Linked DNA regions of Homo sapiens. The protein of the gene in region 3 interacts with the protein of the main gene of each other region in a pairwise test. Each region holds a gene or a part of one and is shown on either strand. Other genes may lie near its edges.

Region 1 (4,135 bases), on a different chromosome or scaffold from region 3:
TGAGCCACCACGCCCAGCCCATTATGTTTTCTTTACATTAATATTAAAGTTCGCGTTCCAAATACTAAAGTTAAGTCAAATTATTGACTAAGCATTGGCCATTACAGGATCTACAAAGTGTGTCAACCCTGTATGGACAATCAAAAGTTGCTCTGCCTATCTGTGAATACCAGCTCCGCCACTTAATAGTTAGCTAAGGTTTGGTAGCTCACATAATTATCTCTGCTGCCTTAGTTTTCTCATCTGCAAATTGGGTGTAATGGTAAATACCTACCTCATAAGGTTACTCTGAGATTTAAATGAGTTAATACACATAAGGCACGTAGAATAATACCTGATCCTGGGTATACATTTCAGAATACCACCTATGATTACCATGATTATTATGTGGAGTAAAAACATCTTGATCATCACACTGTTTCTATCATTCTTCTAGGTCCAATGCCAGTGCTACAGTGGGAAGCTCCTTTGCAAAGAATTCCATCCCAGGCAGAAGGCAATGCTTTAGGACCCTAAGAGAGACCCATTCCCAAAGCTCACAGGGAACATGGCTGGAGTCCAAGAGGCTGTTCTGCCAGAGAAGCGCTCTGGCACCAGAGGGCAAATCCCCATTTTTCCCCAAGGTGGAAACCACCCACAGTCATCTCCAAACACCATGCTCCAGCAGGAGCCACAGCTTGGAGCCTCAGCAGCCCCGCCACTGCAGAGGTGCAGCTGCACGAGTCAGTCAGGGGACAGGGCATCAGTCACCCGGAGGCTACAGGCAGGAAGCCAGTGTGGGGGGCTCGGGTGGGAACAAGCCACGGACAGGAAAGCATTCACACAGGGTGGGTCCCCATGCTCTCCCATCTCCTCATTGGCGGCCACAGTGCGGGTCCTGGATGACAAGCAAAGGCCATGCTTTCTTGTCTCTCAGTAACTTGAGCATCTCAGAATCACAACCCCAAACCCGAATAAACCTCAGTGGCAATTTTCAAAAGTTTTGACCCAAACTAACCCCTTACCTGGCTGCACTAAGAGGCAACCCCAAACCCCTATTTATTAAAAAGCTACATCTTTTTCTGTTTTCATTCCAACAAAGATAGCAAATAGGTGCCCTCCCTGAAAGGCAACAACCACAGCAGGGAGACCCCACTCTAGTCCTCAGCGTGCGCCTTCCCGGGAATCAGAAGCAGGACTGGGAAAGCCACCCTCACAACTTCTCTCCGGGGGACCCCCTGCAGATCTGCGTGGGGGTGAGGGGAAATGACTGAACAGCAGCAGACGCCGAGCCTGGAGGTGAAGACAAGCTGGGTAATGTGGTGCTGGAAAAAAGAAACCAAGCACAAAAACAAGCACACGGAAAAAAAGGAGGAAGGAAAGAAAGGGCACCCAACAACGCACTGATTTATCCCATGAAATAGCTCCCCTTTCTCTTCCCAGCCTAATCAACACCTCCATGAACCCCTGCAAAATGGGCATTTCTGACTGCACACCTGTGCGTGAATCCACACTGACAGATACTGATGCAGAGCAAATACTGATTGTGTGAGGGAAGGAAATAACTTGAACTTCAGACTCATTCGGCAGGTCCTGATTCTCTTTCACTATCAGCCTCCCCACCTATTCTGAGCCGCTCCGAAACAAAACAAACAAGACCCAACTCCTGGGCAGAAAGGGAACAGCAGCTGAGCTGAGCAGCACATGCTTGGAGCGTTCCTGCCATCGACTTCGGATTATTTCTGCTTTCTTGAGACACAGCCATCAGCATGGGACTCGATGCAGCCCGGAGAGAGCACCGCCCGCGCAGCGACGCGCACAGACCCTCCCTTGGAGACGCGCTCCCCGGCGCGTGCGGCCGAGCCCGCGTGAAATGCACAGACCCTCCGGTGAGGCTCTGCCCACGTGTGACCCTGAGCACTGCGAAGCCCTTCCCTTCCATCCTCGCGTGGCCACCCAAAGTCTTGCCTACACCTCGTACGTGCAGATGCCAATTCCATAGAAATACATGATGTAAGGACAGAAATGGGAACGACTGGAGGCTGATCTTCTCGTGACCACGTCTCGCCAACGCGGTGCGCCCATGCACACGGCGAGTAAACGCACACAGCCGGTAAACAGCCATCCCCACCATGCTCAGCCCACAGTCACGCGTGGGGAGAAGGCAGCGGAGAGGGCGGCGGTGGCAGGAGAAGTGGGAAGTCGCGCGCCCGCGTGGGCTGCTCCCTGACAGCCCGGCGCTGCCCCCTCCCCCTCCCGGGAACGGCGCCCACCCGGGGGTCGCAGGCCCACGCGTCGGGCGCGCTCGGGGGGGCTCCGCAGCGCCGAGAACGGGACAATGAGGACGCGGTGACAGGCTGGGTTTCTGCCGCGGTAGTGGCGGCGGCGGCAGCTGGAGCTGCCCGTGCAGCCCCTGCCGCGGCCACCTCCACCCTCGCCTCCCCGGTCCCCACTTACGTTCCGAGGGTCTCTTTGAACTCGAAGATCTTCTTGATGTCTTCAGCTTGCTTTTTCCAGGAGGAGCTGCTCTCGCCGTTCTCCCGGGCCATGGCCGACGAGCGCGGCGCGGAGGAGCGGCCGGGGGCGCGCTGGGGAGGGGGCGCCGGGGGCGCGGCGCGGGCGCAGAGGCGGCGGGGATGCCGGGCGGCTCGGGCTGCGGCGCAGCTTCCTCCTCTGCAGTTTCCTCTTTCGCTCTCGCCGCCGCCGCCGCGGCCGCGGTCCCTCCCTGGCTCTTATTTCTGCTGTTCTCGGGCACAGACTTCCTGCCGCCGCCGCGCGCCGGCTCCTTTGCCGCCGCCTGCCAGCCTCACTTTCTGCTACTTTCTTGCCTCCCTCCCGCTCCCTCCCTGCCGCCCGCCGCGCTCCCCCCCACCTCGCGCCTCCTCCCCCTCCTCCCCCTCCTCCCCCTCCCGCGGGCTCCCCGCCCTCTCCGTGCGCCCCGGCCGCTCCCCGCCTCCAGCGCGCCGCCTTCGGGGATGTCCCGCTCCCCTCCCAAGAGCGCCGGGCCACGGCCGTCGTGCCCCCTGGAGCCCCGGCGAGGGCGGGTACGGGCCCCCGGCAGGTGCGGGGCGCACGCGGGAGAGCCCCAGCCCCTCCGGGAGCTGGAAACGGAGCCCAGTCTGGGGGCGCCGGGGCTTTCCCGTCTCCGGCGGGAGGGGGCGCCTCTGCGTGGCTCGGAAGCGCCGGGCGGGCGGGGGTGCGCGGCGGCCGGATGCGGGGCGCCGAGGGCGGGGCGCCTTCCCGCGCTGTGGCCTGTGGCCCGGGGGACCCGAGGGGCAAGGCGTGGGGTGGGGGGGGTGGGGGCCGGTTGTTATGGCGACGGGCGGCGGCGGCGGCTGGGATGGAGGCGGAGGCGGGCGGGAGCTCATTCGCATTGCACCAAATCGGTTTCACGTCAGTTTCGGGACAGACCCGCGAGGAGCAAGCCGGGGAGCCTCTGGGCGGGTACGCGCAGGACGCGCCAGCAGCTGCCTCGTGGTCCCTTTGCGAGCAAAACTCCCGGGGGTGTTTGGCAGCCGCGCGGGCGCCCTGGTGCTGGGCTGGAGCGGCCGGCGGGCCTGGCCGGCCTGGTTGCCCTGGCTCACGCTTGGCCCCTTCTGGCATCTCCCTGTCTCCTCCCAGAGACTCAGTGGAAAGAAGTGATCGTCTGCCCCGCAGTCCCCTCGAAGGAGGAGCCCACCCGCGGCTGGCTTAGTAGGGTGTCCGGGTTGCGGGGCAGGCACCTGCTTTCCTATGGACTGCCAAAACTAACCCAGAGAATTCCCTCCGGACTCCCATCTCCCAGCTGTACTTTGGCCTGCCCGCCCCACTCCTGGTGTCCACCTGTCAGAGGGCAGCCCACGTGCTCCAGTTCCCTGGTCCCCAACCTGCAGGGGCGACCTCTTGATCGGAAAATTTTAGATTTCTTGGTATCAACACTTCGCCTCCCTCAGGGCCTCTCCTCGTAGTTGGGTAAACAGCTCTGTCTCTTGACTGGGGACACCTGTCCCATTTTCCCAGGACTGTTCCAATTTCACTGTAAAAGGAAAAAAAAAATCTGCTCCCTGAATAGGAAACTTCATCCAGCACCTTGTGCCTAGTTCTGACTCTGGCTGAAGTGGAGGCAGCCCAGCTGCTCTCCCTCAGCCCCTACTCTGACCCTAAAGAGGTCAGACGA
Region 2 (3,626 bases), on a different chromosome or scaffold from region 3:
AGCCACTAGGCTGGGACTGAGGATGGGGGCAGAGGGAATGCATCCTGAAGGCAGCTCTCCATCTAATGTCCCCTGGTCATTGGGTAATCCCCACCTGACCCCCTGCACTTCCCCTTGAGACCCTACCTGTCTCTCTGCCCTGCCCACAGCAATGACTTCAGCAAACTGGTGGCTGGGGAGTACCTCAAGTTCTTTGTCTTCACGGGCATGACTCTGGACCAAGCTCTCAGGTGGGTGTTGACCCCTTGGAGGACAGCCCCCACTCTCCGGGGTTCGTGTTAGGGCCCCAGGATGCCTCCTTTGAGCCCCTCTGTCCCCCACAAGCCGTCCTGACATCACCCTTCCCAAGATGGCTGGGCATGGCCAAGGGCCAGAGCTGCCTGGTAAAGGGACCTTGGGTAGGGGTGATGGGTGGAGGGTCAGGGTGCATACCCTCATCCCCTTTCTCTCCTCCCCTTCCCACCCCAGCTGCTGTACTCTCAAAGCCTCCTGTCACCCCAGAGACAGAGGCTGGAAACTCCTGGTTGCTAGGCAACCCTCTCTTGCCCCTTCTCCAGGGTGTTTCTGAAGGAGCTGGCCTTAATGGGTGAGACCCAGGAACGAGAGCGCGTGCTGGCCCACTTCTCCCAGCGATACTTCCAGTGCAATCCTGAAGCCCTGTCCTCAGAGGGTGAGGAGTTCCGAGAGCAGGGGTGTCCTTAGCTGGCCACAGTGGCAAAATGGGCTGGGCCCTGTGTGTGTGTACAGGAGCATGAGTGTGTGTACAGCAGGGAATGGATGTACATGCGTGTAGGCATGTGAACTTGCATGTGTGCAGACAGCGCTGTCATGGCTGCATGTATGTGGAACTATACATGTGGGCAGGCATATTGCTAGGGTTGAGTGTGTTGTGAAGAGGCAGGAGTTTGCATGCCTGTGCAGGCCAGTGCTTGGCTGGAGAGGGGATTCTGTTTGGCTGCACTGGTCTACAGGACTGTGCTGCGGTTCACTTTCTCGTGGTCCAGGCTTAGAGGCAAGGGAACGTTGGGGCAACTAGTACGTTGGGGCAACTAGCCCTCAGTACTTGAGGGAGCCAGGGACGGGTCCTTGCTGACGGATCTGCTGGAAGAGGAGCTCTTTGTGGGGAGGGTTTACTAGCGGGGTTCAGGAGGTAGGAAGTTGCCGGCCAAAGGGGGTGGGGATGAAATGGGAGGTTGGGGAAGATGGCTGTGGGAAGGGTCCCTGGGAGGCAGCCAAGGCTGAAAGTCAGCTCTCCCCTAGACGGCGCCCACACGCTGACCTGTGCGCTCATGCTGCTCAACACGGATCTCCACGGCCATGTGAGTGGAGGCGGGCGGGCAGGAGCCGGAAAACAAACCCCTGGCCAGACATGCAGGACCTGGGAGGCCAAGGGCCCTCCAAACTCACAGGCCTCCGTTCCCTTCCTTAGAACATCGGGAAGCGCATGACCTGCGGGGACTTCATCGGGAACCTGGAGGGCCTCAATGATGGCGGCGACTTCCCTAGGGAGCTGCTCAAGGTGGGGGGCGGGGCAGGGTAGAAGTCGCTGGAGGGGAAGGATGGAGGACCCAGTCGGCGACGGAGTCCAGAGTCGGAGGGAGGGCAGGGCTGGGGCTTGCCGACCCCCGGCTCCTGCCACGGAAGCCCGGGCTCTCGTGACTCAGCCTGGGGACCGCCCCCTCCCCAGGCCCCACGCGCAGGCTCTCCCGGAACATGCGCACATGCGTGCGGTCGCGACTGCGCACGGCGGGGGAGGGGACCCGGCTCTGGAAAACGCGAGCAGGCGGCCCCGGCCCCTGCGTTTGCCTTCAGTTCCCCTCCTCCAGTGTGCGCTGGGGTGGAAGGCGGGAGTTGCGGGGGTCCCTGCACGGGACAGGGATTGGATGGGGGTACACTCCACACTGCTCCCCCGCCGCGTGGACAGCCAAAAAGACCTTCCCGGTGCTGCTGCGCTGCAGGAACCCGGAGGGAGAGGGGCCTGAGAGGGACTAAGCTTTTCCAAGGTCTGGCAGCGAGTTAGCGCAAAGCTGGAGCTAGAAACTGCTTTCTGGCTCCCTGTGAGCAGGTCCCGTTCCCAGGCGCCAGCTCCATGGCCCGCAACCGAGGGCTCAGATACGTAGGGGCTGGTGCCGGTAGGAGAAGGGAGTGGCTCATCCAGTGGGTTCACTCCTCTCCCTGATCTGGTGGTAGTTTATCTAGAGAGGCCTGGACTCACTTGAAGAAACCCCCAGGCTAGGACAAAGGTGTCTCTGCTCCACTACATACATGTAACAGCACAGGATTGTCCTAGGGCGTTTCTGTGAGCTTGGGGTGCTGGGCTTCTGAGTTTGGGGTATATCTGAGAGGGAACGTCCATGGTGAGCTGGGGTGTTGCTTGAGTTGAGTTGCATCTGTGTGCCCGGGCGTCGTGAATCAAGGGTTTGTATGGCTTGGTGTGTTTGTGCTTTAGGGCTTACGATTCAGAGTGTGTGTTTGAGTTGGGGTGTAGGCTGGATGTTTATGTGTGGTGGGGTTTACATCTTCGAATTGGCCGTGTCTGAGGTATGCCATATGCCTCTGAGTAGGGGGTGTATCTTTGTGAGCTAAAGATTCTAAGTTTTGAAGTGTCCATCTGAATGGGTAGTGTCTGCGAGTTGGGGTGACCGTGAACTGGTGCGTCTGGTTTGTTGGGGTGTATGTCAGAATCGAGGTGTGTTACGTGACTTCAGATCTATATATGGGTGGGGTATCTGCGGGTGAGCTGGATGAGGCCAGGGCTGTTCCTTCCCTGCCTCCGTCCTCCCTCGAGGCCCCTCTTGGCTCAGTGGAAAAGGGCTGCAGGGAAGCGGTCCGACCTCTCCCCTCCCACCACCCCAACCCAGACCAGCCAGAAGGGAGTTCCAGACCCTGCCGGGTCCGCCCAGCGTCACAGCCCCAGGCCTAGCGGTGCTCTCAGCCTCCCTGGAGCTGCCACCCACGCTGGCCTCCCCAGGCTCCTCCCCGTGGCCGCGCGGGGAGGGCCCCCTTCGCGATCGGGCGCCTCCATTTCATGCGGTCCCCGCCCCCAGCCCTCGCCCTCCCTTTCCCGTCGGCGCCCCCCTCCCGCTCTAGCCAAGCCGCAGAGCAGACAGCGCCGCCGCCGCCGCCGCGCACTCCGTGCGTCCGTGAGAGCCGGGCCGGCTCGGGCCGGGCCGCGCCGCTCGCGCTGGCTGTCGGGGGAGCGGTCCGCGGGCCGTCCGGGCGGCCCGGGGGCCGAGGGCGGACGGGGGCATGGCCGGGGGCCGCGGCGCGCCGGCCGGGCCAGCATGATCGGCGTCAACAGCATCCACAGCAGCGCCGGGCGGCTGCGCTCGCGCTCGCTGTGCTCCGTGCGCTACGGGCGCACCCACCGCGGCGCGGAGACCCTGTGCTACGGCTGGCCGCAGCGCTCGCGCAGCCTCAAGCCCGTGCTCTACACCGACCTGGTGGTCAGCCGCCTGCAGAGCCGCAAGAAGAAAAAGGCGGTGAGGGCGTTGGGGCCGCGGCCCACGCCAGGTTGCGGGGCGACCGAGGGGGCGGCTTGTGGGAGGCACCGAGGGCGGTGCCAACCGAGGGCGGAGCCTGGTAGGGACAGAGGTCATGGGCAGCCAGAGGCGGGCACGGGCTGG
Region 3 (4,197 bases):
GGCAGGGCGCAGTGGCTCACACCTGTAATCCCAGCACTTTGGGAGGCCGAGGCAGGCGGATCACAAGGTCAGGAAATCATTCAGACCATCCTGGCTAACAGGGTGAAACCCGTCTCTACTAAAAATACAGAAAATTAGCCAGGCATGGTGGCATGCACCTGTAGTCCCAGCTACTCGAGAGGCTGAGGCAGGAGAATTGCTTGAATCCGGGATGCAGAGGTTGCAGTGAGCCGAGATCGCGCCACTGCACTCCAGCCTGGGAGACAGAGTGAGACTCCATTTCCAACAAAAAAATTAGCCAGGCGTGTTCAGGAGGCTGAGGCAGGAGAATTGCTTGAACCCGGGAGGCGGAGGTTGCAGTGAATCAAGATTGTGCCATAGCACTCCAGCCTGAGCAAAAAAGATCGAAACTCCGTCTCAAAAAAAAAAAAAAAAAAAAGAATGACCACCTTTAGGTGAGCACTTACCATGTGCCAAGGCATCGTTCTATGAAACACACATGGATTAATTCATGCAACTATCCCGTAAGTCTGTGGGGTAGGTCCCATCATTATGCCCACTATACAGCTGAGAAAACTGAGGCCCAGAGGTGTTAAGGCATTTGCCCAAGATTGCACAGATAGAAAGCAGCAGAGTTGAGATTTGAATCTGGGTTCGAATCATAACTGCTTCACTATACTGCCTTTCAGAGGGCCTGAGAGAGCCCCAGCCCCCAGTCTCCATGGATTCCCTTATAAATCCTTATCGCAACACTAGAGAAATAAGCCTTATTATCATTCTTGTTATTGATAAAGACAGTGAGGCCACCAGGGGGGTGAGGTCTACCCCCTTTTTTTTTTTTGTAGAGATGGAGTCTTTTTTTTTTTTTTTTTTTTTTTGAGACAGAGTCTGTCGCCCAGGCTGGAGTGCAGTGGCACGATCTTGGCTCACTGCAAGCTCCGCCTCCGGGGTTCACGCCATTCTCCTGCCTCAGCCTCCCGAGTAGCTGGGACTACAGGCACCCGCCACCACACCCAGCTAATTTTTTGAATTTTTAGTAGAGACGGGGTTTCACCATGTTAGCCAGGATGGTCTCGATCTCCTGACCTTGTGATCCGCCCGCCTCAGCCTCCCAAAGTGCTGAGATTACAGGCGTGAGCCACGGCACCCAGCCGAGATGGGGTCTTGCTTTGTTGCCCAGGTTGGTCTCAAAACTCCCAGCCTCAAGCAACCCTCCCACCTCAGCCTCCTGTGTAGCTGAGATCACAGGTGCACACCACTGTGCTTGGCTAATTTTTGTATTTTTAGTAGAGTTAGGGTGTTACCATGTTGCCCAGGCTGGTCTTAAACTCCTGGGCTCAAGTGATCCTCCTGCCTCAGCCTCCCAAAGCGCTGGGATTACAGGCATGAGCCACCATGCCTGGCTAGCTTTTTAACTTATATGGAAACTCTTTCATTTAAATGCCAATAAAGCATTATTATCATCATTATTAAGATCATCATCACCTTATTGAGCACATACTAAGTGCCAGGCCTTGTTCTAAACCCATTACAAGAATTAAATCACTGGATGTAAAAACAAGCCTATGAGATAAGTACTATTCTCCCCATTTCACAGATGAGGAAATAGAGACACAAACAGGCAAAGTCTCTTGCTGGGGGTCATGAGTGAGCTAGAACTTGATCTCCAGGGTTTTTTGTTTTTTTGTTTTTTGTTTTTGTTTTTGAGACAGAGTCTTGCTCTGTGGTTCAGACTGAAGTGTAGTGGCACAATCTCGGCTCACTACAGCCTCCATCTCCCGGGTTCCAGCGATTCTCCTGCCTCGGCCTCCCAAGTAGCTGTGATTACAGGTGCCCACCACCATGCCTAGCTAACTTTTTATATTTTTAGTACAGATGGGGTTTCACCATGTTTGCCAGGCTGGTCTTGAACTCCCAACCTCAGGTGATCCACCTGCCTCGGCCTCCCAAAGTGCTGGGATTACAGGCATGAGCCACTGTGCTCGGCCAATCTCCAGGTCTTTCTACCCCCATGCCAGGCTCTTCATATCAGTTCCAACCACTTGGTTCTCCCAGTCTCACCCTGTACCTCCCAGTCCCAATCACCCCAGCCCATCACCTGAAATTCTTCCTCCAGCACCACCATCTGCCGGTCTTTGTCCACCTTCACTGGGGAGGGGTGGCACACAGGGATTAGACACTCCCCCTGATCCATGGGGGACACAAGCCCAGCCCTCCCTATCTGCCCTCACCACCGCCCTCCCATCCTTCTGTGGGGGAAGATGTCACTCACTTATGATGGCTGCATTGTCTGTCTCTTTTCGGAAGCGGAATTTCCTCAGCTTTTCTGTTAGCTCTGGGTCTACCTCGCACACCACCAGGGAGTCAGACTGCCGGAGGGACCCAGGAAGAGCTGAAATGGCCTGGCCTCAGCCCTCACCCCTTCCCCAAACCTGTTTCTCCATCCACTAATGAAGAGGAGCATCGCGCCGGCCCATCTGATGCCTTTGTGAACATTGAGAAAAGGCACCCTTCCCACAGAGTAGATACCCCTCACCAGGGCACTCAGCTTGGGGGGCGGAGCAGAGGCTGGGTTCCCGCCTTCTCCACGGGGACTCTTGGGGGACACTCAAGGAGGTGCAGAGATCCACTTCCTGAGCCTAAACCCAGAGCCACTGTCTCTCTGTTCTTCCAGCCGGGCTGTTCACCACAGTTGGGCCCCCTTCCCGGCCCGTGACCTCCATCCCATAGCCTGACCTTCGCCCAGGTGTCCTCCAAGCCCCAGCCCCAACCCCAGCCCCAGCTCTTCCCATAGAACCCCTGGCCCCTGACCATGATTGTTCTGTCCACAGGCCTCTTCTTTTCTTAGTTCCGCTGTCTTCTAGGCGTGGGGACCGGGGCTGTAGGGGGGCGGGCTGTGCAGTAGGAGGAAGGTTTCATCCAACACCACATCCTGTTTATGCCCTTTCTGGGACAACTGTCACAGAGGGCTCCTCCCCCTCCTTCCTTCCCCTCATCTGCCAGGACCTGTCAGGAAATCGCTCAGACCAGGGTTCCAAAGCTTCCTTGCTGTGTGACCCTAGCTAAGTAACTTCACCCCTCTGATTTGAGATTGTGGTGAGGATATAAATAGCTTCACATCGGCCGGGCATGGTGGCTCACACCTGTAATGCCAGCACTTTGGGAGGCCGAGGCGGGCGGATCACCTGAGGTCAGGAGTTGGAGACCAGCCTGACCAACATGGCAAAACCCCATCTCTACTAAAAATACAAAATATTAGCCTGGCATGGTGGTGCACGCCTGTGATCCCAGCTACTCGGGAGTCTGAGGCACAAGAATTGCTTGAATCCGAGCAGCAGAGGTTGCAGTGAGCCAAGATCACATCATTGCACTCTATCCCAGGCAATAAAAATACAAATAAATAAAAATAAATAAATAAATAGCTTCACATAGCTGCCAGCATGGCAGACACAATAGGTACTAAAAACGAACTATTTTGCTCCTCCCCTCCTCCAGGTGGCCTTCCTAGATTTACCCCCATCTGGGATATTTGAATTGCAGGGCTGGAAAAGGGGAGTTTAGTCTTTTGCTGGTCAGACTGACGCCCATTATGTCAATGGCAAAATGGGGACCAGAGGGGCAACCCCACAGTGCCTGGGTAATGGTGACTTTTTTCCTGCACTTTTCCAACCTCACTAGCCTTGCAATGACCTATGAGGCCCTACAACAAGGGAGTTCAATCCCGTCAGACCGGTACCCAATTTTTTTTTTTTGAGACAGGGTCTCACTCTGTCGCCCAGGCTGGAGTGCAGTGGTGCGATCTCAGCTCACTGCAACCTCCGCCTCCCAGGTTCAAGCCATTCTCCGGCCTCAGCCTCCCAAGTAGCTGGGACTACAGGCACGTGCCACTACGCCCGGCTAATTTTTGTATTTTTAGTAGAGATGGGGTTTCACCATGTTGGCCATGTTGGTCTCGAACTCCTGACCTCAAATGATCCACCTGCCTCAGCCTCCGAAAGTGCTGGGATTCCAGGTGTGAGCCACTGTGAGCCACCATGCCCGGCTATTTTTTTTATTGAGTATTTTTGCACTGCCCCCTTTTCCCATCCCGAAATAAAATTCCTAGATAATATAACCTACTTACACACATAAATTCAAAAAAAAATCAATATAATGTCCTGACTGTCATATAAAGAAGAAATAAAAGGAATGTAGTTC

What was found.
Region 1: the proteins of GMFG (region 3) and CAMK1D interact in a two-hybrid assay, tested with the Homo sapiens proteins (one large-scale study listed by BioGRID and IntAct).
Region 2: the proteins of GMFG (region 3) and PSD interact in a two-hybrid assay, tested with the Homo sapiens proteins (one large-scale study listed by IntAct).

The regions. Positions count from the first base shown.
Region 1 is NC_000010.11:12,348,212-12,352,346, reverse strand, and holds the start of CAMK1D (calcium/calmodulin-dependent protein kinase type 1D), read right to left. Parts: upstream 2,801-4,135; 5' UTR 2,529-2,800; coding exon 2,437-2,528; intron 1-2,436. UniProt on the Homo sapiens protein: Calcium/calmodulin-dependent protein kinase that operates in the calcium-triggered CaMKK-CaMK1 signaling cascade and, upon calcium influx, activates CREB-dependent gene transcription, regulates calcium-mediated granulocyte function and respiratory burst and promotes basal dendritic growth of hippocampal neurons.
Region 2 is NC_000010.11:102,408,751-102,412,376, reverse strand, and holds part of PSD (PH and SEC7 domain-containing protein 1), read left to right. Parts: intron 1-149; coding exon 150-230; intron 231-557; coding exon 558-670; intron 671-1,260; coding exon 1,261-1,319; intron 1,320-1,429; coding exon 1,430-1,519; intron 1,520-3,099; exon of another isoform or gene 3,100-3,482; intron 3,483-3,626. UniProt on the Homo sapiens protein: Guanine nucleotide exchange factor for ARF6. Induces cytoskeletal remodeling.
Region 3 is NC_000019.10:39,333,163-39,337,359, forward strand, and holds the start of GMFG (glia maturation factor gamma), read right to left. Parts: upstream 2,882-4,197; 5' UTR 2,815-2,881; coding exon 2,812-2,814; intron 2,393-2,811; exon of another isoform or gene 2,370-2,392; coding exon 2,273-2,369; intron 2,149-2,272; coding exon 2,099-2,148; intron 1-2,098.